Linked DNA regions of Homo sapiens. The protein of the gene in region 4 interacts with the protein of the main gene of each other region in a pairwise test. Each region holds a gene or a part of one and is shown on either strand. Other genes may lie near its edges.

What was found.
Region 1: the proteins of SHFL (region 4) and FHL5 interact in binary tests that used the Homo sapiens proteins (3 or more experiments, as listed by UniProt).
Region 2: the proteins of SHFL (region 4) and KRTAP1-5 interact in binary tests that used the Homo sapiens proteins (3 or more experiments, as listed by UniProt).
Region 3: the proteins of SHFL (region 4) and SSX2IP interact in binary tests that used the Homo sapiens proteins (3 or more experiments, as listed by UniProt).

Annotation. Positions count from the first base shown.
Region 1 is NC_000006.12:96,601,105-96,608,134, forward strand, and holds part of FHL5 (four and a half LIM domains protein 5), read left to right. Parts: exon of another isoform or gene 1-48; intron 49-2,497; 5' UTR 2,498-2,509; coding exon 2,510-2,668; intron 2,669-3,645; coding exon 3,646-3,820; intron 3,821-4,797; coding exon 4,798-4,967; intron 4,968-7,030. UniProt on the Homo sapiens protein: May be involved in the regulation of spermatogenesis. Stimulates CREM transcriptional activity in a phosphorylation-independent manner.
Region 2 is NC_000017.11:41,025,513-41,031,872, reverse strand, and holds KRTAP1-5 (keratin-associated protein 1-5), read left to right. Parts: upstream 1-4,664; 5' UTR 4,665-4,717; coding exon 4,718-5,242; 3' UTR 5,243-5,847; downstream 5,848-6,360. Other genes in the region: KRTAP1-4 (keratin-associated protein 1-4), read left to right, coding at 1,795-2,160. UniProt on the Homo sapiens protein: In the hair cortex, hair keratin intermediate filaments are embedded in an interfilamentous matrix, consisting of hair keratin-associated proteins (KRTAP), which are essential for the formation of a rigid and resistant hair shaft through their extensive disulfide bond cross-linking with abundant cysteine residues of hair keratins.
Region 3 is NC_000001.11:84,645,447-84,652,476, reverse strand, and holds part of SSX2IP (afadin- and alpha-actinin-binding protein), read left to right. Parts: intron 1-479; coding exon 480-594; intron 595-1,949; coding exon 1,950-2,115; intron 2,116-4,869; coding exon 4,870-5,044; 3' UTR 5,045-7,030. UniProt on the Homo sapiens protein: Belongs to an adhesion system, which plays a role in the organization of homotypic, interneuronal and heterotypic cell-cell adherens junctions (AJs).
Region 4 is NC_000019.10:10,082,400-10,089,320, forward strand, and holds the start of SHFL (shiftless antiviral inhibitor of ribosomal frameshifting protein), read left to right. Parts: upstream 1-3,917; 5' UTR 3,918-4,028; coding exon 4,029-4,049; intron 4,050-4,529; coding exon 4,530-4,653; intron 4,654-4,851; coding exon 4,852-4,901; intron 4,902-6,711; coding exon of another isoform or gene 6,712-6,921.

The DNA.
Region 1 (7,030 bases), on a different chromosome or scaffold from region 4:
GTGAGCGGATCTTGAGGTCAGGAGATTGAGACCATCCTGGCCAACACGGTAAAATCCCATATCTACTAAAAATACAAAAATTAGCCAGGCACGGTGGCATGAGCCTGTAGTCCCAGCTACTCAGGAGGCTGAGGCAGGAGAATGGCTTGAACCCGGGAAGTAGAGGTTGCAGTGAGCCGAGATCACACCACAGCACTCCAGCCTGGGCAATAGAGCAGGACTCTGTCTCAAAAAACAAAACAAAACAAAAAATTAAGAAATATGGTCTATATTGTAAGGCATTTTCTGTGGATCCAGGCCTGTTATGTAATTAGGACTGGGGTGGGAGAAGGACCGTCTTGTCTTATATTTAGACTTCTGATCTGATCACTAAATAAGTTACAGGTATTTTGATGTTGTCATGTTTAAAGTGTCATTTAAAATAAACAATTGAAATATTATCAATTTGGTAATCCCTTTTGTGGTTTTATATGTTTTATATATTCATTTTATAATACACTAAAAGCCTCACAAAATGGCAGTAGACTGCAGTTCCTAACCCCTGAGGGGCCGTGTTTCATGATGCTATTATACACATCTAAAACTAAAATAAATATTAATGAAAACGACGTTTTCCATATTAAGTGAAGAGAGTTAAAGGTACATATTTTATTTCTATAAAGTGACAAACACTTGATCGCTGTAAATGTGAATACAACTTTTATTTTTAAACCTTTCAAGGGAATTAGATCTATTTTCCTGCTGTTTCCAAGCCTTCGGTAACCCTCTGAGTGTGTTTGTATTCACTAGGAAGGAACATTTCTGTGGAATTAATCAAATGGAGAATTCAATGTTCCTTTTAGATAATTTTGGCCATGTTCCATTGCGAACTTTCTAGTCTGCATTTCATCTCTTTCCTGGGAAAAGACCCACATATTCCAAATCCTCTGCCTTTTCTCTACTTGTTAGTGAAGAACAATATAGCAAAACTGCTATGTACAGAATTAATAATCATGTGCATTCAGCAAGGCTCTCTGCTGGGAATTTCATCACTAGAATAAGGCAAAACGCATGAGAATAAGAGTTCAAATGTAGTCAGTACAAACTAGTATCAAAAACTCTGTTGTATTATCGTTAATTGCTCCTCTGATTTTGCTAAAATTAAAAGAAAAATTATGTGGGGGGAGAATTAGAAAATATTCAAAGCTCCTAATATATTCCAGTAAACCCTGAGATGACAAATCTCATTTTCCAAGGAAAAGCAGTGCTAATTTTTTTTTGTAACAACAAAGAATTCATGTTCAATGCCTAATTAAAACCTGGAAATCTATATGCGTTGTTTCTTTTTTTTTTTTTTTTTTTTTTTTTTTTTTTTTTTTTTGAGACGGAGTCTGGCTCTGTCGCCCAGGCTGGAGTGCAGTGGCACAATCTCGGCTCACTGCAAGCTCCGCCTCCCGGGTTCACGCCATTCTTCTGCCTCAGCCTCCCGAGTAGCTGGGACTACAGGCTGTGCATTGTTTCTTAATGGCTTTCCAAATTTACAAAACAATCAGAGTCCTTATCTATCACTGGCTTTATGTTTCATATCAGCTTTTTTATTCATCTTACAGAATGCATTTTGCCTTGCAGATGAATTCTAGCTATTTTATCCATAGCTATAATGGAATAGCTGCTGCTATTATTTATGCTCTATACATGTTACTTTGGCCCTAAAGCCTGAAGGAACCCATTGTTGTTTTCTACCACTGATGATTTTATCTGCACTTCTGCATCTGGGCAATTGTTCACAATAGTCACAAAGACCTAGCACTTGGTCTGAGAATCCTACCTGCTGAGGAGTTTTATTTGGCCAGTTTGGTAAAGGACATTTAAATGAAGATATCTAAAGCTAGCAGAAAACAGAGATTTTGGAGTCATCAGCACATTTGGGATGGTGGAAGCCACAGCCAAGGAGGGGATGTAGTACACGAAGACCTCAGGGTAAATGTGCAGAGCCCTTATTAGGTATTCAGTAAAGACTTGAGGAGTAAAAGAATGAACTAGAAAATGACAATGTACTGATTATTAATTTATATTTGAGTAAAAAAGACTGTTATTTCCATCAAAATCTGCCTCTAGAATTTTCCAGCAAGAAAGTAAGTGATGATAGTTATTAAAAGCCCTAGCAACAGTTTATATCCTTGAGGTAAAACCATCCTGTTTCAACAGATACCATATTCTCATTGAATTCCACATTAGCTTATGATAAACACAAGATGTTTTTCATAATCTAGATGCAGGTTTTATGCATTTTTTTTTAGCAAAACATACAGGGAACTGCCAAGATGGGAGAGTAATCTTTCCTAAATCACTCCAAATGTCACCATGACTATAAGCATACTTTCCTAAATTGGGGGATTTTTGCTTAAGAAAATATAAGTTCATTCAAATGCTTCACTCACATTATATTAAGGTTTCATCATTTATCCTATAAACAAAATTCTGCTTTTATATACATTAATCACTTTGTCATTCATAGGATCAAACCAAAATGACAACTGCTCACTTTTACTGTCAATACTGCACAGCATCACTTCTTGGGAAGAAATATGTACTAAAGGATGACAGTCCATACTGTGTTACATGTTATGATCGTGTATTTTCTAACTATTGCGAGGAATGCAAAAAACCAATTGAATCTGATTCTAAGGTAAGTCTCACCTCAATTTACAGAATTACTGCCTATGAACAGCAAACAAGTGGGTTGGAGTGCCTCTTTTCATTTAGTGTTGACTTTCAACACTATTTCTCTGCTACTGGATATATAAGGATCTTAAAAGTTACCAGCAGTCAAGCTCCAGCCACTACACTTAGCACTATGAAATACAACATATGCTTAATCCTCACATGATCTTCTAAGGTAGCTGAGAATGCTAAAGATTAAAGGGGTTAAGCTATTTGTCCAAAGTTACACAGCTAGAATTTTCCTGCTGTTTCCAAGCTCTCAGTAACCTTCTGGGTGTGTTTGTTATTTCTGGAATGACAAGGGTATAAATAAATGCATAAAGAATTGAAGTTGAAAGGATTCAAAATCTGTTTTCTGATGTAAAATCAGCTTCATTTCTTACTAAACCCTATTGATACCTCTCACACCTACCACCCCTTCCTCCGACATGCTTATTCTTTCTTTCTTTCTTTCTTTCTTCTTTTCTTCCTTCCATCCTCCGATTATTTTCCTCTCTCTTTCTCTCTCTCTCTCTCTCTCTCTCTGTCTCTTTCTTCCCTCTTTCTGCCTTTGTTTTACTTAGGTGATGTTATTTTTTGTCTGTTTAGTTACATCTCAAAGAGTAATAGAACATTGCACCCTAAAATTTTTAAAAATCATTCCATGAAAAACCTCTATTATAGTTTATAAAAAGAATATAGGCAAATTTTGAAGACACAGCAGAGAATGTATTTGTTTTTTCCCAGCTGCCTTAAGTGACCCACCAAGAAAGCCCTGGGCTCTAGCTCTTAATTACCCCAGAGAGTCTCCTCTCTATGGGTAACAGTTTCAGTAACAACTTTCCCTCACGCTACTAGCACAACCTACTGACATGAGAGTCCCAGGAGTGTTCAGTTTTGTTTCATAAAATGGCCTGTATTGTCACAACCACATTTAATTAACTTTTATTTACTGTCTCAAAGGATCTTTGTTACAAAGACCGGCACTGGCATGAAGGATGCTTCAAGTGCACCAAATGCAATCACTCTTTGGTGGAAAAGCCTTTTGCTGCCAAGGATGAGCGCCTGCTGTGCACGGAGTGCTATTCTAACGAGTGCTCCTCCAAGTGCTTCCACTGCAAGAGGACCATCATGCCTGGTAGGGTCTCAAGGGGGCTCCTGTCTCTAACTGAAGCTGTGATGCTTTTCATTAAGTCCCAGCACATGAGGAGTGCAGCAGCTCCCAAAACCCTGGTTTTGAGAAAGATATCTTTCTTACTCTCTCAATCTTCTTCCGTGTACTTTAGAAATAAAAAGATTATTCATTCATTATCCTTGAACAGGTAAATTACAGTGTTCTGTGTATTTTCATATAGTCTAATTCATAGAAACATTTCAAACCAGAATCTTACCCATAAAATAAAGACAAAATGTATACCAATAACACTACATTAAACACAGTGCCCTAGGCACAATCAATGGCATCAGAAAGAGTGATTCATCATAGGCGATTGGGGCCAACTGCCATTTTGTAGCTTGACACAAACTGTTTTGAGGATCGGTTATTGTTATTCTCTCTTAGGGAAGACAGGGTTCATGTATATCATTCCACTTTTGGCAAGGACTAATTCTTTATATTTTGATCTTCTCAATCTCTATGGTCAGCAGCATAAGAACATAATTCATTCTCTGCCACTCTTGCTCTCTCATTTTCTTATTATGGATTCAGAGAATTTCTAGAAGGCCATAACTGCACAGTATAGTCTCAGTAGTTGTGCTCTGGGCATTTTTAATACCCTTGTAATGATTATTATGGCCCAATTTATCCAAACCATGTGAAACCATTAGGAGTCTCCATTAAAAGTACTTTTACATCTCCAGATTATAGGTTATGCAGAGCTTGAAAAAGTTTTCAGTCTAAGAGTGATTCTCCATCATCATGGCTAAACTTTATTAACCATTTTTTTTTCTCCAGATGAATGGGTTTTTTTGAACCTGAAAAAATACTATTTTTCTAAAAGGACAATTCATTTATCATCTTAACTTAAAACGTTTTTAAGTAATTTGATCTGTATTTGCTTAAAAAATAAAATTATGCTTGACTTATACTAACATGGCCTTACTTTTGGAGTACAGGTTCCCGCAAAATGGAATTTAAGGGAAACTACTGGCATGAAACCTGTTTTGTGTGTGAGAATTGCCGACAACCTATAGGGACAAAGCCTTTGATCTCCAAAGAGAGTGGCAATTATTGTGTGCCATGTTTTGAGAAGGAGTTTGCTCACTACTGCAACTTTTGTAAGAAGGTAATTTTCTAAAGAGGGTGAAGCTTGTGGAAACTCAGACTATTTCTTTTTAGCTGTATCATATATTTAGAATGAACTGATACTATTATGTTATATCTGTAATCAACACACCCATGGTAGTTTGGACTTTCAACATGTCCAAACCACTAGTTGTCACGATGAGCATGACCATCTTTTTTTTTTTTATTAACCATAAAATTCCAGCCACAACAAGAATTTAATATTCCAAACAGCTCAAGTGATTTGGTATTCCAGTTCATTTCACTGTTTTTTGTTGTTGTTGTTGTTTTATTTTTTTGGGATGGAATCTCGCTCTGTCACCCAGGCTGGAGTGCAGTGGTACAATCTCGGCTCACTGCAACCTCTGCCTTCCAGGTTCAAGAGATTCTCATGTCTCAGCCTTCCAAGTAGCTGGGATTACAGGTGCGTGCCACTGTGTCCAGCTAATTTTTGTATTTTTAGTAGAGACAGGGTTTCACCATGTTGGCTAGTCTGGTCTCGAACTCCTGACCTCAGGTGATCCACCTGCCTTGGCCTTCCAAAGTACTGGGATTACAGGCATGAGCCACCACACTCGGCCCATTCACTGCTTTTATACAAGATCTCACGTATTCTGGGAGAAAGCACAGGTCTCTCTTTGAATACAGATGTTTCTTAAAAAATAATGTTTGATCTATTCAGTATTAACTGTTTCAGAGAAATATGGATTTGCCTCACAAAGTGACTAAGGGAACCAAGTTAAACAGGATGTTTAACTTCTCACATTCTTTCTCAGCAATGCAAATGTCTTCTTGACTTGAAGCTTTTGTATTTCCTATGAGTAGGGCAATCGGCTCAAGAGAGTGCCAAGATCATGGGGGAAGTTCAGTAGACAAAAGACAGAAAGAAGACTAAGAGCAGCAAGTTCCTTCACTCCAGTTCCAGGATCATGTAGGGCCTTCTGACTTGGCTTCCCACTCAAAAAAAACATTTTCTAAGAGAAAAAAAAAGTAATATTTTTGAAGTAAACTTCATCCAATTCTTTTTTTATCCTCTAAGCTTTTATGTGAAAAAGTAGCTCTAACACCTTGATGAAGCCTGTCTGCATTCCATAAAATATATATGGAGGTTCTCAAAGAAATCCTTGACCTGCGAGGCATCATAAGTTTAAAATGACACCATAAATTGTCATGAGAAAGCTGAATCATGAAAATACATTGGATTAGTATAGTGGTTTCAAAGTATTTTTTATCTGTGGGTTACTTTGGCAGAACTCTTAAGCCCATTTGTATATCTGGACAGCTGGAAGTCACACTACCACTTTCTATGCACACATATGTGAACACACATGCACATACACACACACACACACACACGCAGTTAACTGTTTAACATACATAACCAATACCACTACTGCATTTAAAGAGGCAGCAATACACTATGCTAAGTTATCATTATTAAATTACACTATGTTGATGGCTGAGAATTACAATTGATCACATGACATAAAATAATCTTATGACTGAGACCTTCATTACTCTACCAAAACACTGGCTTAGAAGGTGACTTTACAAGCAGCAATCAAGCCATATGACATATGAAGCTCCAAAGAATTACCAGGGTCAATGACGGCATTTAAAAACATGCTGGAGCTGGGCATGGTGGCTCACGTCTGTAATCCCAACACTTTGGAAAGCCAAGGTGGGAAGATTGCCTGAGGCCAGGAGTTCAAGACCAGCCTGGGCAACATAGTGACACCCTGTCTGTATAAAAAAAAAAAAAAGTTTAAAAATTAGCCAAGTATGGTGACACGTGCCTGTAGTCCCAGCTACTTGGGTGGCTGAGGCAGGAGGATCACTTGGGCCCAGAAATTCAAGGCTGCAGTGAGCTATGATTGAGCCACTGTACTCCAGCCTGGGTGACAATGAGATCCTATCTCTAAAAAATATACAAAACTTAAAAACTAAAGAAAATAAAATCTTGCTGGAAATAAAATGAATAGGTTTATCTCACTGTTTTGAGAGACAACTGAGTTGGCCAATTTTAGGCTGCATTTCTTAAAGACAGACTAAAACAGTAATGAT
Region 2 (6,360 bases), on a different chromosome or scaffold from region 4:
TCTTCAAAATACTGATTTACTTTCCTTCGGGTATATACACAGAAGTGGGATTGCTTGATTATATGACAGTTCTATTTTTAATTTTCTGATGAACCTTCATATTGTTTTCCATAATGGCTGTACTAATTTACATTTCCACCAACAGTGTGCCAGAGTTCTCTTTTCTCCACTTCCTCTCCAACACTTGCTATCTTTTGTCTTTTTGATAATAACTATCTAATATGTGTGAGACGATATCTCATTGTGGTTTCAATTTGCATTATCCGATGATTGGTGATTTTGAAAATTTTTCATATACCTGTTGGCAATTTGTAGATTTTTTTTGAGAAATGTCTATTTAGATTTTTTGCCCATTTTTCAATTACGTTATTTGTTTTCTTACTACAGGTATTGAGTTGTTTGAGTTTCCTCTATACTTTGGATATTAACCCTTTATCAGATATGTGGTTTATAAATATTTTCTCCCATTCAGCGGTTTGCGTCTTCACTCAGTTTAGTGTTTTATTGGCTGTGCAGAAGCTTTTTAGTTTGATGTAATCCCACTTGTCTATTTTTGCTGATGCTTTTGGATTCATGTTCACAATATCACAATATTGGCCAGGCAAAAGTCATGGAGTTTCCTCTGTTTTCTTCTTATAGTTTTATCATTTTGAGTCTTTCTTACATTTCAGTCTTTTAATCCATTCTAAGTTGGTTTTTGTATATAATGTGAGACAATGGTCTAATTTCATTTCTTCTGAATGTGAATGTGGTCAAATGATTTTCAACAAGGGTGACAAGACTATTTACAAATGGTTAAGATGGTTAATGTAAATGGTTCATAAATTTTATGGTATGTATATTTTACCACAATTAAAAATTTGTAACTATAAACATGTGTAGGAGACCCAAACTTTTCTGAAATAGAAGATATATATGTATATATGCTGGTTTATATTTGCAGAAGCAAGGATAAAGGTGTCAAAGAATGTGCACCAAATTCTTAATATTGATTACCTCTAGAGCATTAGTTTTGGAAGAGATGTGTGCATCTTCCAGGAAGGGAAAAGACACTAATTTTTCTTTATATACCTCTGTACTCTTTGACTTGTTACAATGTGTACTCATTACTAGCACATATGTTTAATTTAATAGAGTCAGAAAACAATCTACAAGCAAAAGTCATTAAAGATTTTAGTTAGCAATTTGTACATTCACTATTACTGAAGGCAAGAATATTAGATAGAGCTCTGAGGATCCTATAACTTGCACAAATTGATCATAGAAAGGCATACTTGGTTTGAAAGTTGATACATCAGGTTGTAGTTCATGTTTTGATGACACTAATGTTAGTCTTTCCAAGTCTGGACAAATTGTTTATAAAATCATGATCATAGTTAAGTGACCATTTAAGGAAAAATGATCAGTTAAGATAAATTCTGCCTAAAGGTTATCAAAGGACAACTATGACAAAACGTGCCAGGGCGACACTTGGCTCAAGGCTAGTCTGTCATGTGACTTGCATAAAGAGGCACTTCGGTGCTTGGCTTCCATGATGAGCCTTCACTTCGCCCAGAGGGCAAAGAAGAAACATAATGAGACTTAATTGTACAATGGAAAAAGGCTATTGAAATGCTATTTATAACTTTATAAACACCTCAGGTATTAGCCAGAGACTCACACTGAAATTGACATCAAGAAAAGGTGTTGGGTAAATATGCAGCTCTAGGGAACATATCAAAGGACAGATATAGAAGGTACAGCCCAAACTCAGAAACCTCTCTTAACACAGCTCTCAACCCAACTCCTGACACCATGGCCAGCTGTTCCACCAGTGGGACCTGTGGCTCCAGCTGCTGCCAGCCAAGCTGCTGTGAAACTAGCTGCTGCCAGCCAAGCTGCTGCCAGACCAGCTCCTGCGGAACCGGCTGTGGCATTGGTGGTGGCATTGGCTATGGCCAGGAGGGCAGCGGTGGATCTGTGAGCACCCGTATCAGGTGGTGCCACCCAGATTGCCACGTGGAGGGCACCTGCCTGCCCCCCTGCTACCTGGTAAGCTGCACACCCCCATCCTGCTGCCAGCTGCACCACGCCGAGGCCTCCTGCTGCCGCCCGTCCTACTGTGGACAGTCCTGCTGCCGCCCAGCCTGCTGCTGCCACTGCTGTGAGCCCACCTGCTAAAAGCCAGGTTGCTGATCGCTTAAGAATGAAAGGGGAAGCACAGCAAAATTGTGCTGATTTCTGAAGAACTGTTCGATTTTACTTGGATGCTAAGTACCATGATGTTGTTAAGCTGCTCAGAGATAATGAAACTCCTAGTTAGGACACTGTGGATGTGCCGAATTCACTTACTGAAAGATGTATCAATCAGTGTTCTGGATAGCTTGCGTTGCTTGAGCAGAGGACCAGGATGGAATAGTTCATCATTTCAGTGACATCTCTGCTCCCCCAACTCTCTCTTGATGCTCATGCATCTTCAGACCTGGTTTTTCCTTGAATATCTCTGATTAATCCAAATAAAATGTTTTAATGTGCAAAGCAAACTGAGTTATGTCCTCCTTCTACCTTTAAACATGTCTTCTTGTAGCTGGTATTCAAGAGTGGATTTGCAATTTGATAATAATACCAAGGCATAACCATAAAGTCTAAACCAGAAAGATTAAATACAAAGTAAATTATGCTTGAATCCATCAGCTTAAAAATGCTCCATGAATTAAAGAATTTTTATAGTTCAAATATTTACATGCTCTAATCTATTATGATTAGGTCTAGACCAATAAAGGTTGACCTTTAGCTAAAATGTTAAGGTTGATCAAAGCTATTGATTTCTATCTAAATGTAATTCTACCATCTTTTGTCTCCTTCCATTTAATATACTAAATGTTCTCCTTCATTTATGCCCCAAAATCTAAAGAAATTGCATTACCTTCTAAATAGATTTAAAAATAGCTACTAGATACTACCTATTTTCCAAGAGAATTTAGGTTTAATTTCTACACCTTAGCCTTTCACATTCTTCCCACTGATCCTTGAATTGCTCTCTAAGCTTCAACTCCCACTATTCACCTTCATTTGATGTACGTATGCATAAGGTGTATCTTTGGTCTAAATGATAGTAGAAGAAACAGCTATAGAGAGCACCCGCTGAGTTCTACCATTGCCATTTGTCAGACAGAAGTGTTAGAAATCTGAAACAGCTCGATTATATTTTGCACTTTGCAACCCAACTTAAAAGATATTCTCTTAAGAAGTTAACACGCTGGACACGGTGGCTTACGCCTGTAATCCCAGCACTTTGGGAGGCTGAGATGGGTGGATCACGAGGTCAGGAGATTGAGACCATCCTGACTAATATGGTGAAACCCAGTCTTTACTAAAAATACAAAAAAAAAATTAGTCAGGTGTGGTCGTGGGTGCCTGCAGTCCCAGCTACTTGGGAGGCTGAGGCAGGAGTATGGCGTGAACCTGGGAGGCAGAGCTTGCAGTGAGCCAAGATCACGCCACTGCACTCCAGCCTGGGCAACAAGCAAGACTCTGTCTCAAAAAAAAAAATTAACACAACCTAGAACAAAACAAAACATATTTTACCATTTAATTTTTAAATTCTTCATTAGGCATTAGAGTGTAATACACAAAATACAATAGGATGCAAATATAGAAAGAAACACGTTTTCCACATTATTTACAAGCTCCCAGAACTTACCTCTATATTTAATTGGTAGCAATGATGGATTACACACAAAATTATGCAATTTCCAAGAGGAATAAAGTAGATGGCAGTACATTTTTCAAAGTGTCATAACTCCTAGATATTTTTTCCCGAGCCCGGTTCCACTACTAAATCCAAAAAATAAAATAAAATAAACCAAAAAACACATTTCCTAGTCTCTTTACAGCAAATAACAAGACTCTTTCATGAGAAGTACTACAGCTTGAAAGTTCTCTTTAATCATGTTTGAGTGGTATTGATATCCATGAATCAAGCCTTTTACTCCACCTATTCAATAAACATTTATTGAATCAGATTCAGTAAACATTTATTAAGGTTCTACCACAAACTAAGGACTCTGCTGGATACCTTCCTAAATACTATGTCAGTTTGGTTCCCAAGAACAGATTTCTGGTCTGGAACAGGAATAATAGTCACACATTCCAAATTGGTTGAAATCAAAGGAACTATAATCGGTAATTCAATAAGACATTGGAACAAAAAAAGGTGAAATCTGCGAATTATGTATGACCAAAGGTATTCCTTCAGTTCAGTAGATATCCAGATATCCAAAATTCAATAAAATTTAGTCTATATATCTAGGAGGAAAAAATAATAGTTAAATATAACAGCACAATTATTACTCTTAGCCTTAGAGGTATGGATAGATTGTCACGTGGAATAACTATTATGTAAAATGAGAGCATTCATTTGGACTAAAATGGAAGTACTCTTTGAACATGGGAAACCACAAACATATTCCAAAGAGCAAAGGACTGATATGAGGAGTCCAGAAGAAACTATAAAACAGTAATTTCTAAACTATTGCTCATAATGTGTCACAAGTATTTCAACATAAGCCAATCAGAGATCCACGGAGTAACAAATTTAAACAAAAACAAAGAAAATATGTTAACAATTTTGTAAACAGCAGCTGGTTCAGATATATAAAAGGACCAACGTGGAAGTCACCACCAAACCTCAGAAACTCCTCCAAGCAACCTAACTCTTAACCCAACTTCTGACACCATGACCTGCTGCCAGACCAGCTTCTGTGGATATCCCAGCTTCTCCATCAGTGGGACCTGTGGCTCCAGCTGCTGCCAGCCAAGCTGCTGTGAGACCAGCTGCTGCCAGCCACGCAGCTGCCAGACTAGCTTCTGCGGATTTCCCAGCTTCTCAACCAGTGGGACCTGCAGCTCCAGTTGCTGCCAGCCAAGCTGCTGTGAGACCAGCTGCTGCCAGCCAAGCTGCTGTGAGACCAGCTGCTGCCAGCCAAGCTGCTGCCAGATCAGCTCCTGCGGAACTGGCTGTGGCATTGGTGGTGGCATCAGCTATGGCCAGGAGGGCAGCAGTGGAGCTGTGAGCACCCGTATCAGGTGGTGCCGCCCAGACAGTCGTGTGGAGGGCACCTACCTACCCCCCTGCTGTGTGGTGAGCTGCACGCCCCCATCCTGCTGCCAACTGCACCATGCCCAGGCCTCCTGCTGCCGCCCGTCCTACTGTGGACAGTCCTGCTGCCGCCCAGTCTGCTGCTGTGAGCCCACTTGCTGAAAGCCAGTTTGCTTATTTTCAATTGCCTAGGTCACAGTGTCTCTGAACTGTTCATCCCTTGACCACCTCTGGACCACTAACAAGTTCTCAGACTTTGCATTGCTTGTGATGGAGACTACTAAGTATATGAGCTCACAATTCTATCTGATTCCATTCTACAATGAATACCTTGACCCTTCACTGGGGACACAGAAATGCTACAAAGCCACCTGCTGATCATCAATTTGCTTGGGATATACTATTTCTGATATTTCTGCAGGATTAAAAATTACTGACATGTTGTGGAATTTATCCATGAGAACTATCCACAAGTCTAATGTTTCCATGCTTTATAATCTATTTTATCTTGTTTACCTAAAATTTTTTGCAACATCAAAGACACCAAATTATAGCCAAGTGACATTCCTCAAGTCACCAGAGAGAATGGAAGCTCATCACCCAACATTCAGCTTCTAAGAAGTAGGCTGGACTTTCCACATTTTAACATCTGATCCATCCCTTGGTTTTTGGATCATAATGATCTTGCCTGCTGGATATTTCAGTTATATCTGTGATACAATGTCTTCTGTCATTTCTTAATAAATATTATATACTAGGCAAAGAAACCATTGTCTTTGTTTTCACTTGTACATCACCTGGTTTAACTGCTTATAATTCAAGAATGTCTACTTGAGGCCAAGAGCAGTGGTTCACACCTGTAATCCTAGCATTTTGGGAGGCTGAGGTGAGTGGATTACCTGAGCTCACGAGTTTGAGACCAGCCTGGGCAACATGGTGAAACCCTGTCTCTACTAAAAATACAAAAAAAAAAAAAAAAAATTAGCTGGGCGTGGTAGTGCACACCTGTAGTCCCAGCTACTTGGGAGGCTGAGGAAGGAGAATCGCTTGAACCCAGGAGGCAGAGGTTTCAGTGAGCTAAGATCATGCTACTGCACTCCATTACACTATGCAATAAACTGCAGCAAGCTCTCAAAATGGCAATTTCCTATATATGACACCAAAGAAGACATAAAGTGCATTAAAAAGTTAAGTAATGGTAAAAAGACACATATTTCCAAGTCGAAAGCAAATGTGGGAGCTTTTCTTTTATTGAGGATCATTGGCCATGTAAGGGTAGG
Region 3 (7,030 bases), on a different chromosome or scaffold from region 4:
TACAGGCATGAGCCACTGCGCCCGGCTTTTTTTTTTTTTTTTTTTTTTTTTTTGGAGATACGGTCTTGCCGTGTCACCTAGGCTAGAGTGCAGTGGTGCTATCTCGGCTCACTTCAGCGTCAACTTCCCAGCCTCTAGCCATCCTCCCTCCTCAGCCTCCAAAGTAGCTGAGACTGTAGTCCTGTGCCACCATGCCCAGCTGATGTTTGTATTTCGTGTAGAGACAGGGTTTTGCCGTGTTGCCTAGGCTGGTTTGGAACTCCTCAGTTCAAGTGCTCCACCAACCCTCAGCCTCCCAAAATACTGGGATTACAGACGAGTGCTGAAATTATTTTTAGTTTTTTAGGTTAACTCATTTGACATAAGAAGTACGAATAGATAGCCAGAGAGCAAACAAAGATAGCTAGAGCAATCATGTGAAATGGCAACTGTGTGGATGTTGAAATATTGATCATTATTTCTTTGGCTGTTTATGGTAGAGAAAGGCATTTGAAGAAGAAAGAGCCAGTTGGTTAAAGCAGCAGTTTCTAAATATGACTACCTTTGACCACCAGAACTCAGAAAATGTGAAACTTTTCAGTGCCTTCTCAGGAAGTGAGTACTTTATAAACTCTTTAATTTGAACATGCATATAAATAAAATTATTTACATATTACAAAATACTACATATTATTAATACAAAACTTTGGAAATCACCAATTAGAGCTCTCTAATTATAACTAAAAGTCAACTTTTTTTTGTTTGTTTTTGAGACGGAGTCTTGCTCTGTCGCCCAGGTTGGAGTGCAGTGACGTGACCTTGGCTGACTGCAACCTCTGCCTCCCAGCTTCACGCGATTATCTTGTCTCAGCCTCCTGAGTAGCTGGGATTACAGGCATGTGCCACCACGCCTGGCTAATTTTTGTATTTTTAGTAGAGACGGGTTTTTACCATATTGGCCAGGCTGTTCTTGAACTCCTGACCTCAGGTGATCCACCCATCTCAGCCTCCCAAAGTGCTGGGATTAGGCATGAGCCACTGCGCCTGGCCTAAAAATCAACTTTAATATTTTATTTACTGTAGTGAAAGTGAGGATGAGAGGGGGACTGTGCATGCCCAAAGTAACTTTTGTTGTGAGTTTGTAATAATGCGAAGTTTTTGAAAATTTACATTGAGAATTTCTTTTTTCAAGATGTAGTCTTGCTCTGTCACCCAGGCTGGAGTGCATCTCGGCTCTCTGCAGCCTCAGCGTCCTGGGCTCAGGCAATCCTCCTTGCCTCAGCCTCCTGAGTAGCTGAGACTATAGGCACACACCACCATACCCAGATAATTTTAAAAACTTTTTTGTAGAGACAAGCCCTCGCTATACTACCCAGGCTGGTCTCAAACTCCTGGCTTAAGCAGTCATTCCGCCTCACCTTCCCAAAGTGCTAGGATTACAGGTGTGAGCCACCCCACCCAGCCTAGAAATATTTTTAAAACTAGATCCTTTTGGCTGGGCACGGTGGCTCACGCCTGTAATCCCAGCACTTTGGGAGGCCGAGGCAGGTGGATCACGAAGTCAGGAGATCGAGACCATCCTGGCTAACACAGTGAAACCCCGTCTGTACTAAAAATACAAAAAAATTAGCCAGGCATGGTGGCGGGCCCCTGTAGTCCCAGCTACTCGGGAGGCTGAGGAAGGAGAATGGCGTGAACCCAGGAGGTGGAGCTTGCAGTGAGGCAAGATCGCATCACTGCACTCCAGCCTGGGTGACAGAGCAAGACTCCATCTCAAAAAAAAAAAAGATCCTTTTAAACATGGGTGGACTATGCAACAAAGATAAGCAAGATTAATGATAATTAATTTGAATTTGTTCCATCTCTTTCCTCACTCAGAACCGCAGATGAATCATCCTGATGATTTACCTTCACTATATTTAATGCCTCACCATATGTACTGCCTTTTTCTCTTACTTGTTTTACAACAGGTTCTGATTGGGACAATCTTATAGTGCACTCGAGGCAGCCGCAAAAGAAGCCTCACAGTGTGTCTAATGGGTCTCCAGTTTGCATGTCTAAACTTACTAAATCTCTTCCTGCTTCACCTTCCACTTCAGACTTTTGCCAGACACGTTCCTGCATATCTGAACATAGGTATTTGTCTATAGGTGATCTTTTCACGTGTTTCTAAAAATTGCTAAAGTTGCACTGCTAAGGGAAAGGTGGCATGTCTGTAGTATTAGCAACAATAGAGATTTTGGAGAGGAATTTAGTAGATGATTTATTCATTCTACAAATATTGAGTGTCCAGTATATATAGACACTGTGCTAGATGCTGGAAATACACTAGTGAACAGGTAGATCTGTTGTCTTCTTGGAGGTAAATCATATGATGTGTGTCTTTTTATTTCACATTTAAGATACAATTTAGAATGTAGTCTTAATTATAGGAGTTAATATTTTAAGCACTTTAATTGTATTAAATGGAAGGATATTGTTTTGACAGTTTTTGTAGAGTACATATCTTAACACTTTTTTCCGGCATGCCCATTTTATTGTTGTTGAAGGGCAAAGAACTGAGAAAAGCCTGTTCCTGTTGAGTGAAAAAGATTTGTGCCCAAGGATGACAGTGTAAAAAAACATGGCTCTCCACCCTGGGAAACCCATATGTTGCTCTTAATTGCTACATTTTGGTGTTTTCCTGTATCTCAAGTTATTATATCATTTTCTAAGATAAGATCAATACTCTGCTTCAGTGCCAATTCCAAGATTAGTTTTAAACGAAGAAGAGGAAGCAGGTAGAACATTCCTAGTAAGACAGAGAGGAATAGAAAAGATCAGAGGGGTAAGTTGGAAAGTATGGTGGTAATCTCTTTGCTCTTAATTAAAAGTAGGAGATAATGGCCTTGGAAAACAGTCAGAGCTGAAGCAAACTCGGCCTGTGTTAGAGACTGGAGTGGAACTAAGTGTCGAAGAAGCCAGCTGGCCCTTGGGCCAAGAATTATGAAATAGATGGAGTTTAAAACAAGAAAGGAAGCTTTTAAAAGAAGGAGGAGAACACACTATAAGTTGTAGTTGACTTTTAAGAGGTGGGGGGATTAGGACTCCAAGTAAATGTTAGAGGGGATGAAAAAGAGCTAGGTAAGAGCACTCTAGCCAAGTGTAGGAACCCTGAGGGTGGGACACACCTCATACATTTGCAATGGTGACCAAGACCTAGAGGTGTGAGATGAGGATGGAGAGATGTAAAAGTTCAAATATACAGAGAGGATAAGATCGTGAACCCACGTGTACCTATGACTCAGGTTCAGCAATTATTAACTCTGATCAATATTGTTCATATATAATCCCACTCTGCTTGCTCTCTCCACCCCAGCCCCAACACATCTGGGATTTCATTTACAGAATATTTTAGTGTGCATTTGCAGGTCAAATATTGTTCTAAGGGGAATAGAAAAAACACTAGTTTTAAGCAAGAGAGTGAAAAAAAGTCTTAAGTTTTAAAAAGATTACTGTTTTATAATATTGAAAACAGATTGTAGGAGTCTGTAATATAAACCAGGAAATCCAGTTAGGAGGCACTATTGGAGTGGAAACGAAAGACAATGGTAATTGGACTAGGGTCATAATATGAAGGAAGAAATGCTTGGATTTGGGATCTATTTTGAAGTTAGACCAGTAGATGAGTTGAATATGGGAAGTGAAAGTTTATTTATTTTACAATCAAAAGATAATGTGTAAGCTTATAGTATTTTCTTACATAGAATGTTATTCAAACTTCTAAATTTGACCAGTCAGAACTATCTGTATAGATATAGACACAAATTCTAGCCACCATTCACAAATAATGCATTTTATATCTAAGAGATAGCATAACATAGTTGTCTCAATTGTTTTTATATATTTTAAATATTTAGCTTTTTACATCATTTTTAGTTGTGAAATATTTGACATAAACATTTCTTGAAGACATTGTTTTATGTTTAATAAAGTTCAGCATTTAGTACCTAAATCATAGGGTGTTGCAAGTTAAATGTTAATGTATGTAAAGCACTTAAAAACATTTAGTGACAGACTATAAAAATAAAAATATATGTAAACAAATATAAACATGCTTTTTTTGTTTCTGAGTGCTCCACTAAACAACATCCGTGGCATAGAAACAATTTTGGAGCTTAAAGAAATTCAAGGTATTCATTGTTAACTAGCCTCTAAGAATAAAACAAACAGAAAAAAGTTTTATAACTAATAGAGAAGCTGTGCAGCCTGACTTGGTTCTTCACATTTTAAATTATTTGATAAACTTGGTTCTCTTGCTCCTGAAGCATTTTGGATCTCGGTTTATATTAATATTGCAACAAAATAATTAGGAGTATTTGTAGCTAATTTCTACAACATCCTCATTGTTCCTTCACTGTAGAATGGAATTTTATATAAAGGCTGTGCCTTAGATTCCAGGCAAGGAGACTTGTGCGTAAGTTACCTAAAAAACTTAGTTTGATCATTTGTACAGGGATTCTGATGACCGAATTACTATAAGTATTGGTAAATAAATTTATAGTAATTTGGTCATCAGAATCCCTTGTACAAATGATTAAACTAGGCATGCACTACTACTCCCAGCTAATTTTTTGTAGAGACAGGGTTTCACCATGTTACTCAGGCTAGTCCTGAATTCCTGGGCTCAAGCAGTTCGGCTGCCTCAGCCTCCCAAAGTGCTAGGATTACAAGTGTGAGCTACTGCTCCCAGCCGTTTTTTTTTTCCAAGTAAAATTTTAAATTATATTTTTGGCCTAGATTTTTAGAATTAAAAGGAACTTATTTTTTTTGAAGAGTGCCACATTATGAGGTTAAAGTACAAAAGAAGGAGAGGATAGTCACTAAGATCTGCCTTTCTTTTCCCAACAGTTCAATCAATGTACTGAATATAACTGCTGAAGAAATTAAACCAAATCAGGTTGGAGGAGAATGTACAAATCAAAAATGGAGTGTGGCATCAAGACCTGGATCACAGGAAGGTTGCTATAGTGGATGCTCCTTGAGCTACACAAATTCTCATGTAGAAAAAGATGACTTACCTTAGACATGTGGACTGGAATTTTTTTCATTAATGTGTTCATCAAGTTTCACATCTAAGTTGAAACAGGGTGTGTCATAAAGTCAGTTATCTCTAATAACTTAAGATGGTCTGAGTTGTTTGTTTGGACTTCCCTGTCTTCCCCCAAAGAGTTGAAATCTTAAATCTATTTAAAAGGATATAAAAGCTTTGGATATGTATTTTTAGTAACAGAAGCATCTGGTTCTGTGAATAAAGGAATGTATAGATGTTTGGATGGAAACAAAAGCACTAGACTGAGTTTCCTCTTATAGGTATTAAAAATAGCACTTTTAGGAAACTGATTATTGTAAATGTTTAATTTTGTCTCAAATATAGTTGGCATTGGAAGTTTAGCCTTTACTTGAATGTATACTGTAGATTTTTAACAAAGCGAGTTCTATATTTATTATGTTTAGTGTGGTTTGAAATTACCTCTTTCATATGTTTTAAATAAAGTGAAATTTATGTATGTTTTGTACATAGATACACATGATTATGTTAAGAGGCTTTAAGATTTAAAAGTTTCACACAACCATAAGTATAGTATTTCATGCCAGTAAAATTTTTTTAGTGGTATTCTGTTTACAGATGTATTAGGACCATTGATGCATTACATTTAAGAATTCTCTTTAATACATCTGGGCAATAAATATTGAAAGGTATTCCATGAAGCTGAGTTCTTTAGATAATCAACACTACTAACATTACATTTTTGAGATTTTTATGACATTAGATTTTTATTTTGTATATGTAGAATATTATAATTTTTAAAAGGACTATTGATGATAGAAGAATAGGGGCAAGACGACAAAAGTACCTTTGAATAAAACAATTTAAGAAATTGGTTTAAGATATTGGATGATAGAAGATATTTAAGATATCTAGATGGTGATATTTTCCTTACAAGATGGGTACCAGTATAGTAATATCTGTATACTAACTAGGGCTTTGTATTGTCAATAATTTTTTAATAATTTTTTAATGAGGTATTTACCACTGAAGAAATATGATAATATAAAACCATCAAATTTTATAATTGAGATGATACTCTGGAAAAACATGTCATTTCATTTTCAGAAAACTCTTAAGCTCTCTTCAGTCTCTGTAATGTTTCTGATTGCATGTTTCTTCATGAAAAGTATGTTGTTGTTTTGATAGTAATAATAATAAATGTAGGCTCAGCTCTTTCCCAGGATTTTCATCAAAAAGCTTTAAGTGCCTAACCCTGCTTGTCTCTGTACATAGAAGCCTGCACAGATCCAACCCTTGCTAGGTATCATAGTTTAGGCCCATTTACCTTCCCCTGTACTGGCAGTTCAGCCGCTTACATGCACTCACCCTGTTTGTGGCTATTTTAAATTCATATTATTAAAAAACAAAAAAAACCCACCTATTTGTGTTGTCCATTCACTATACGTAACTATGTAACTCTTTGGAGTTGCATAGCAGCAGCCATTTTTTCAGGGCTGATAGGATATCATTAAGAGTGTCTTATGAGACATTAGTGGATATACTCATAGTAACCATATTTATAGTTTTAAAGAGCTAGCTCTTGAGCATTAGTCACTACCTTCAGCTTGATGCATGGTCACTTCTTTACTATTTAAAATACTACACATTGTACAAAATATCGAAGACACTACCATATGCTAAAGGAAGAAATCTAGCTGGGATATAGGATTTTTGTTGTTTTTGTTTTTGTTTGTTTTGCTATTTAGCAATAACATGGTCAAAAAGGCAATCAGAAATTTTAAATACAGTTAATGGATACATTTGGCAACAATTTTCCCCCGAGGGTTTTCCATGGTGTACTTTGCAAGAAATAAGCACTCTAATTTTTAAAGTAAATCTCTTATTTTAGCAAATATTATATTTCATGACAATGGAGTTCTAGAAAGCAGCATCTGTTTTTTGTTGCGTGTTTCCATTTTAAAGTGAGTTGAGTTCTCAAATTGGAAAGAAAGATTCCTT
Region 4 (6,921 bases):
GAGTCTCACTCTATTGCCCAGGCTGGAGTGTAGTTGTGCGATCTCGGCTCACGGCAACCTCTGCCTCCCGGGTTCAAGTGATTCCCCCACCTCAGCCTCCCGAGTAGCTGGGACTACAGGCACACACCACCATGCCTGGCTATTTTTTGTATTTTTAGTAGACAGGATTTTGCCATGTTGGCCAGGCTGGTTTCGAACTCTTGGCCTCAAGTGATCTGCCCTCCTGGGCCTCCCAAAGTGCTGGGATTACAGGTGTGAGCCACTGCACCCGGCCTTCCTCCATAATTGAACACAGTCGCCCAGCTTAAGCCTCCAAGGGTCCAGTTCCAGGTCAAGATTTGCTGCTTTTTTTGTTTTGTTTTGTTTTGTTTCGTTTTGGTTTTGAGACAGAGTCTTGCTCTGTCACCCAGGCTGGAGTGCAGTGGCATAATCTTGGCTCACTGCAACCTCTGCCTCCTGGGTTCAAGTGATTTTCCTGCCTCAGCCTCCCAAATAGCTGGGATTACAGGTACCCGCCACCACGCCCAGCTAATTTTTGTATTTTTAGTAGAGATGAGGTTTCCATGTTAGCCAGGCTGGTCTCGAATTCCTGACCTCAGGTGATCCACCTACTTTGGTCTCGTAAAGTGCTGGGGTTACAAGAGTGAGCCACCGCGCCTGGCTGATGGGGTCTCACTATGTTGCCCAGCATGGCCTCGAAATCCTGGCCTCAAGTGATCCTCCTGCCTTGGCTTCCCAAGTGCCGAGATTACAGGCATGAGCCACTGTGCCCAGTCAATGAGCTTTTAATGTACATAATGTGGCTGAAGTGATGTGGGACTTTCAGGCTAGATCATAAAAAGATACAACTTCCACCTGGCTCTCAGCTCTTGGAAGGTGCTCGGGAGGCCAGCTCCCATGCTGGGAGTACACTCATGCCACTCAAGTATACTGGGAGGAATCGAGGCATCCCGCCAATCATAGCACCCATCTGCATGCCCTGAGAGTGAGCCACCTTGGAAGCAGATTCGCCAGCCCCCGTCAAACCTTCAGATGACTGAAGCCCTGACCAACTCCTTAACTGCAACCTTCTGAGAGGCCCTGAGCCAGAACAGCCCAGCAGCAAAGCCATTTCTCAAGTCCTAAGCTACAAAGACCACATGAAATCATAAGGATGGACCAGGTGCAGTGACTCACACCTGAAATCCCAGCATTTTGGGAGGCCAAGGCAACAGGATCACTTAAGCCCAGGGGTTCAAGACCAGCCTGGGCAACATAGTGAGACCCCCCCGCCCCCAGCTCTACAAAAAAGTATAAAAATTAGCCGGGAGTGGTGGCACATGCATGTAGTCCCAACTACTCGGGAGGCTGAGGCAGGAGAATTGCCTGAACCCGGGAGGCAGAGGTTGCAGCGAGCCGAGATCGTGCCACTGCACTGCAACCTGGGTGACAGAGCAAGACTCTGTCTCAAAACAAAAACAAAACCCAAACAAAACAACAACAAAATAACAAACAAATTAGCCGGATGTGGTGGCACATACCTGCAGTCCCAGCTACTCAGAAGGCCAAGGCCGGAGGATTGCTTGAGCTCAGGAGGTTGAGGCTGCAGCGGAGCTATGATTGTGCCACTGCACGCCAGCCTGGGTGACAGAGTGAGACCCCGTCTCTTAAAACAAATTTAAAAAAATGCTAGCTCTACGAGGGCAGGGATCTTTGTTTTGTTTGCTGTCATGTCCACAGTGCCTGGAACAGCATTGGGAACAGAGTACACGCTCTATGTGGTTGCCACGGTGATTATAACCTAACAGACCTTTGGTCTGCATATTCTGCGCTAAAAAAAAAAATCAAAAAACAAAAAACCTACCAGATCTGATTTATGTCAGGGCTAGCTCAGACTCTTACCTGTTTCCTGCCCACTCAGTGCCCATCTCGGCCAGTGAATGGGACATAGCTATGACCTCCCTCTGCACTGGGCAAATAGATTAGTAACTGGCAACTATGACAGGCGATCCACTCCAAACCTCGCCACTTCCCTCAGGATAAAATCCCAGGTCTTCTGTGCAGTTTCCAGCCCCCATCCTGCCTAGGATTCCACCATTCAGCCACAAGGAATCATGAACTGCTTGTAGTTTGCAAATACAGTAGTCTCCAGAGTGGAGTACATACACCCTATAAACAAAGCTTTGGGGTTCAACTGGAAAAACTTTAGAATATCTAGATTTGGGGGGTTTTATTGTTTGTTTTTTAGTCTTTTAAAAATAACTTTTTCCTTTTCTTTTTTCTTTTTTTAAAGACAAGGTCTTGCTATGTTGCCCAGGCTGGTTTTGAACTCCTGACCTCCAGTGATTCTCCCACCTTGACCTCCCAAAGTGCTAGCATTACAGGTGTGAACCATCATGCCCAGCTCCATTTATCTATCAATATTTTATATAACAGTTAACAGAATATATTGATATAATTGTATTTGTATATAATTTATAAATAATATCCATCTTTGAGGCCAGGAGTTTGAGACCAGCCTGGGCAACATAGTGAGACCCCGTCTCTACAAAAAAAATAGAAAATTAACCAGGCATAGTGGCATATGCCAGTAGTCCCAGCTACTTAGCAGGCTGAGGCAGGAGGATCGTTTGAGCCCAGGAGTTAGAGGCTGCAGTGAGCCACCATCAAACCACTGCACTCCAGCCTGGGCAACAGAGCAAGATCTTGTCTCAAAAAATAAATAAATGAATAAATATCCATCTGGGGGTGTAACTTTAACACTTTTACCTATAGGGGTGTGCAATGGAGAAAAAAATTTGGAGTCGTTGAACACAATGCTATTTTGCTCCTCAGAGAGTATCCGGCAGTCTCTGGAGACGTTTTTGGTAGTCACAACAGGGAGAGTAGGGAACCACTGGCATCTAGTGGGTGGAGGCCAGGGATGGTGTTAAATGTCCCCCAATACACAGGACAGTCCCCCACACAAAGAACTAGGCCGCCCAAAGTGTCAAGAGTGCTGGGCTTGAGAAGCCATTGCCCAAAAACCCCAGACTTAGTCTTGCTTTGGGGGCTCTGCACGGCTGCCTCATCTCCCCACTCTATTCCTCCCCTAGCTAAGACCTCCAATTTCAGTGACTCTACAAAGCATCCCCTCCTCCAATGAAGTTGCCATCTCTGTGTCCCCAGGCTGGGCCAGAGCCCCACCACCTAAGGGCTCCCTGATGTGCCCTGTACTGGGTTAGAATTGTCCGTCCCACGGGGTTCTTAACCATTGCAGATTCCCTGGATCCCTGAGACAGCCGGATTCTACCGGGCTACTAGAGACCAAGAATCTGTATTTTTCTCAAGCACCGCTCCCCCCAACCACACACACACTGCCTGCCCCTATCAAGGGCACACAGCAGGTGGCCCAGTGACTAGTTGAACGCCTACTGCAAGCCAGGCGCTATTACGCGATCCACTCGGGAATCTTGGCACATACTCCACTCCATGGTGTAGACACCAGGATTCTCCCCATTTCACAGAGGGGTAAACTGAGGTTGAGAGAGGTGACCGTAGCTAGGACAGAGACTCAGGGCAGGAAAAGGGCCCAGGTCCTCATGAGCGCCAGATTCCCGGGGAAGGAGGGAGAACAGAGAGGAGGGTGATGAACTGGGGGAGCGCGCGCTGGGTGGGGGGGCGCGGGGCCTCGCCGCGGCCTTCTGATGCGGCCCCGCCCCCACGAGGGACGTGAAGACGCGGACCCCGCGCAGCGTGGGGACATGTGACCGACTGCAGAGGCCGCGCCGCCTCCCCCGTCCGAGGTCTGCGCGCTCCGCCGCAGGGTGCAGACCCGGGGCGCCCGCCTGGGTTTGGGGCGCAAGAGCAGAGGCGGAGCCAGGGCGGAGCCAGCGCGCCGGGTCCCCCCTGAATCGAAAGCGAAACAGGGGCCGGGGAGGAAGGGCGGAGCCGGCCCCGAGGCACCGCCCCCTGCCCTGCGCGGCTGCTGGACCGACGGGCGCACCCAGGTAGGGGGGCGGCTGAGCCGCGCAGTGCGGACCCTCGCGGGGAACTGCGCCGCCGCCACCATGTCTCAGGAAGGTGTGGAGGTAAGCGATGGCTACGGCTGGGCCGGGGTCAGCCGCGACAGACCCCGAGGAGCGGCCGGGAGGCGCGGAGGGGGCTTCGCAGTTCCTGGGGACCCCCATCCTAGAACCCCAGATCCTTACCCCTGCCTGGCGCTCGCCCCCCTTGAAAAGGAAAGTGACTCCCACGTTTCCCCAGAGCGAAATGAGGCCTCCCCGAGGAAAAGCGGGGGCTGCAGGGTCAAAGGTCAGAGGCCAGAGATAACCTGGCCGCCCCCCCACACCTTAGGCTGGGACGCTCGCCCCAGTCCGCGCCTTCCCCCAACGCCCTGTGGGGACTTTGGCTTTTTCCAGGAAATGCCGTAAAGGGATGAAAGGCGGGGGGGGGGCGGCGGAGGCCAAAACCAAGGGTCAAGTTCGGGCCGGGAGAACGGTGCCTAGAGATGGGGGAGGGATGATCCCGTTTCCCCTTCCCCCACCGGAACCCCCCTGTCTCCATCCCAGCTGGAGAAGAGCGTCCGGCGCCTCCGGGAGAAGTTTCATGGGAAGGTATCCTCCAAGAAGGCGGGGGCTCTGATGAGGAAATTCGGCAGCGACCACACGGGAGTGGGGCGCTCCATCGTGTACGGTGAGGCTGCAGGGGTCCCGGGCCTGGTGCGGGGACCGCGCGTGGGAGCGCCGAGGGGGCGTGGTCTAGGGAGAGGCGTTGAGATCACCTCCCCCGGAGGTCCCAGCCTTGGGGAGGCTCTGCGTCGCGGCTCTGGGTGGCCTGGAACTCCCACAGACCCTTCAAGGGCCCTTCCCTTATATGCACTCTCCCCCGCAGGGGTAAAGCAAAAAGATGGCCAAGAACTAAGTAACGATCTGGATGCCCAGGTAACCTATCCCCTCCCCTCGCAAAGGACCGGGTCACGGGAGGGAGAGCAAGAGGGGGGACCCGACCCGTTCATGGTGACTGACCCCCCTCTGAAACAGGAGGGACCAGGCATTGTCGGTCCATAACTCATCACCCAATCTCACTTTTTCACCTCTCCATCATTTGTCCGGCCAGGGAGCCTGCAAACAGTAGGCGCTCATTATGTGCTGATTGTATTCAATGGGGGAGAGAGCCATGAAACTAAGCAATGAAAGGAGCCAGGATTATTGCCATCATAGCGGGGGCGCAGAGGTCAGAGAAGGCTTACTGGAGGAGGAGGTACCAAGTCTTAAAGGATGGGGAGGAGTGAGCCCTGGGAGGGGAAAGGGAAAGAAAGGCAGGGGTCTTGGGGTGGGGGAGGGAATGGCATAAGCAAAGGCTGGGAGGTGGGGAAGGGTTGTTAGTGGCAGTCTCTAGAAAGGCTAGGATGAGCAGAGGATTGGGGAGGAGAGAGAGGCAGGGGAATGGAACCCTTGTGTTGAATGAATGAATGAATGAATGAATGAATGAATGAATGAATGGCTTTGAAGCACAGGTGCATCATGGCTACTTTGCTTCTTTGACAGCTTTGGTGATGGGAACGCTGTGGATTTAGCCTGCCTGAAAGGCTTAGTGTAGGGCTGTTAAAGAGTATAATAGGCCAGGCGCGGTGGCTCACGCCTGCAATCCCAACATTTTGGGAGGCCGAGGCGGGCGGATCACCTGAGGTCGGGAGTTTGAGACCAGCCTGACCAACATGGAGAAACCCGTCTCTACTAAAAAATACAAAATTAGCTGGGCATGGTGGCGCATGCCTGTAATCCCAGCTACTCGGGAGGCTGAGGCAGGAGAATCACTTGAACCCAGGAGGCGGAGGTTGCAGTGAGCTGAGATCACACCATTGCACTCCAGCCTGGGCAACAAGAGCGAAACTCTGTCTCAAAAAAAAAAAAAAAAAAAAAATGCCGGGCGCGGTGGCTCACGCCTGTAATCCCAGCACTTTGGGAGGCCAAGGCGGGCGGATCATGAGGTCAGGAGATCGAGACCATCCTGGCTAACATGGTGAAACCCCATCTATACTAAAAATACGAAAAAAAAAATTAGCCAGTTGTGCTGGCAGGCCCCTGTAGTCCCAGCTACTCAGGAGGCTGAGGCAGGAGAATGGCGTGAACCCGGGAGGCGGAGCTTGCAGTGAGCCGAGATCGCACCACTGCACTCCAGCCTGGGCAACAGAGCGATTCTCCGTCTCAAACAAACAAAAACAAACAAAACCAGAGTATAACAAAACATGTATCATAGTCTACATTTATACATATAAAAGTATGATAAAAATGATAGCAGAGGGGCCAGGTGTGGTGGCTCACGCCTGTAATTCCAGCACTTTGGGAGGTTGAGGCGGGCAGATCACTTGAGGTCAGGAGTTCGAGATTAGCCTGGCCAACACGGTGAAACCCCTTCTCTATTAAAAATACAAAAAATTAGCTGGGCGTGGCAGTGCATGCTTGTAATCCCAGCTACTTGGCAGGCTAAGGCAGAAGAATCACTTGAACCTGGGAGGCAGAGGTTGCAGTCAGCCAAGATTGTGCCATTGCACTCTAGCCTGGGAGACAAGAGCGAAACTCCGTCTCAAAAATATAATAATAATAATAATAATAATAATAATAATAATAATATTAGCAGAGAGTAGCATTCATTGAGTACTTCCCACATGGCAAGATTCCAGGAATTTATTTATTTCATCACTGCAGTGACCCCAGGAGACAGGTCCTATTATTTATCCCCATTTCACAGACAAAGAAACTGAGGCCGAAGTCACTTGCCAGCAAGCAGGGGCAGCTGCGATTTGAACCCTGGCCACCTGGAGTCAGAGCCTGGGCTCTAACATGCCTGTCAGTGGGAACCCAGGGGGCAGGGAGTGGCTTGCCCAAGTCCCCACAGCTGGAAGTGATACAGCTGGGATTTGAACCCACATCTCTCTCCCACTTAGCCGAGCACAACGTG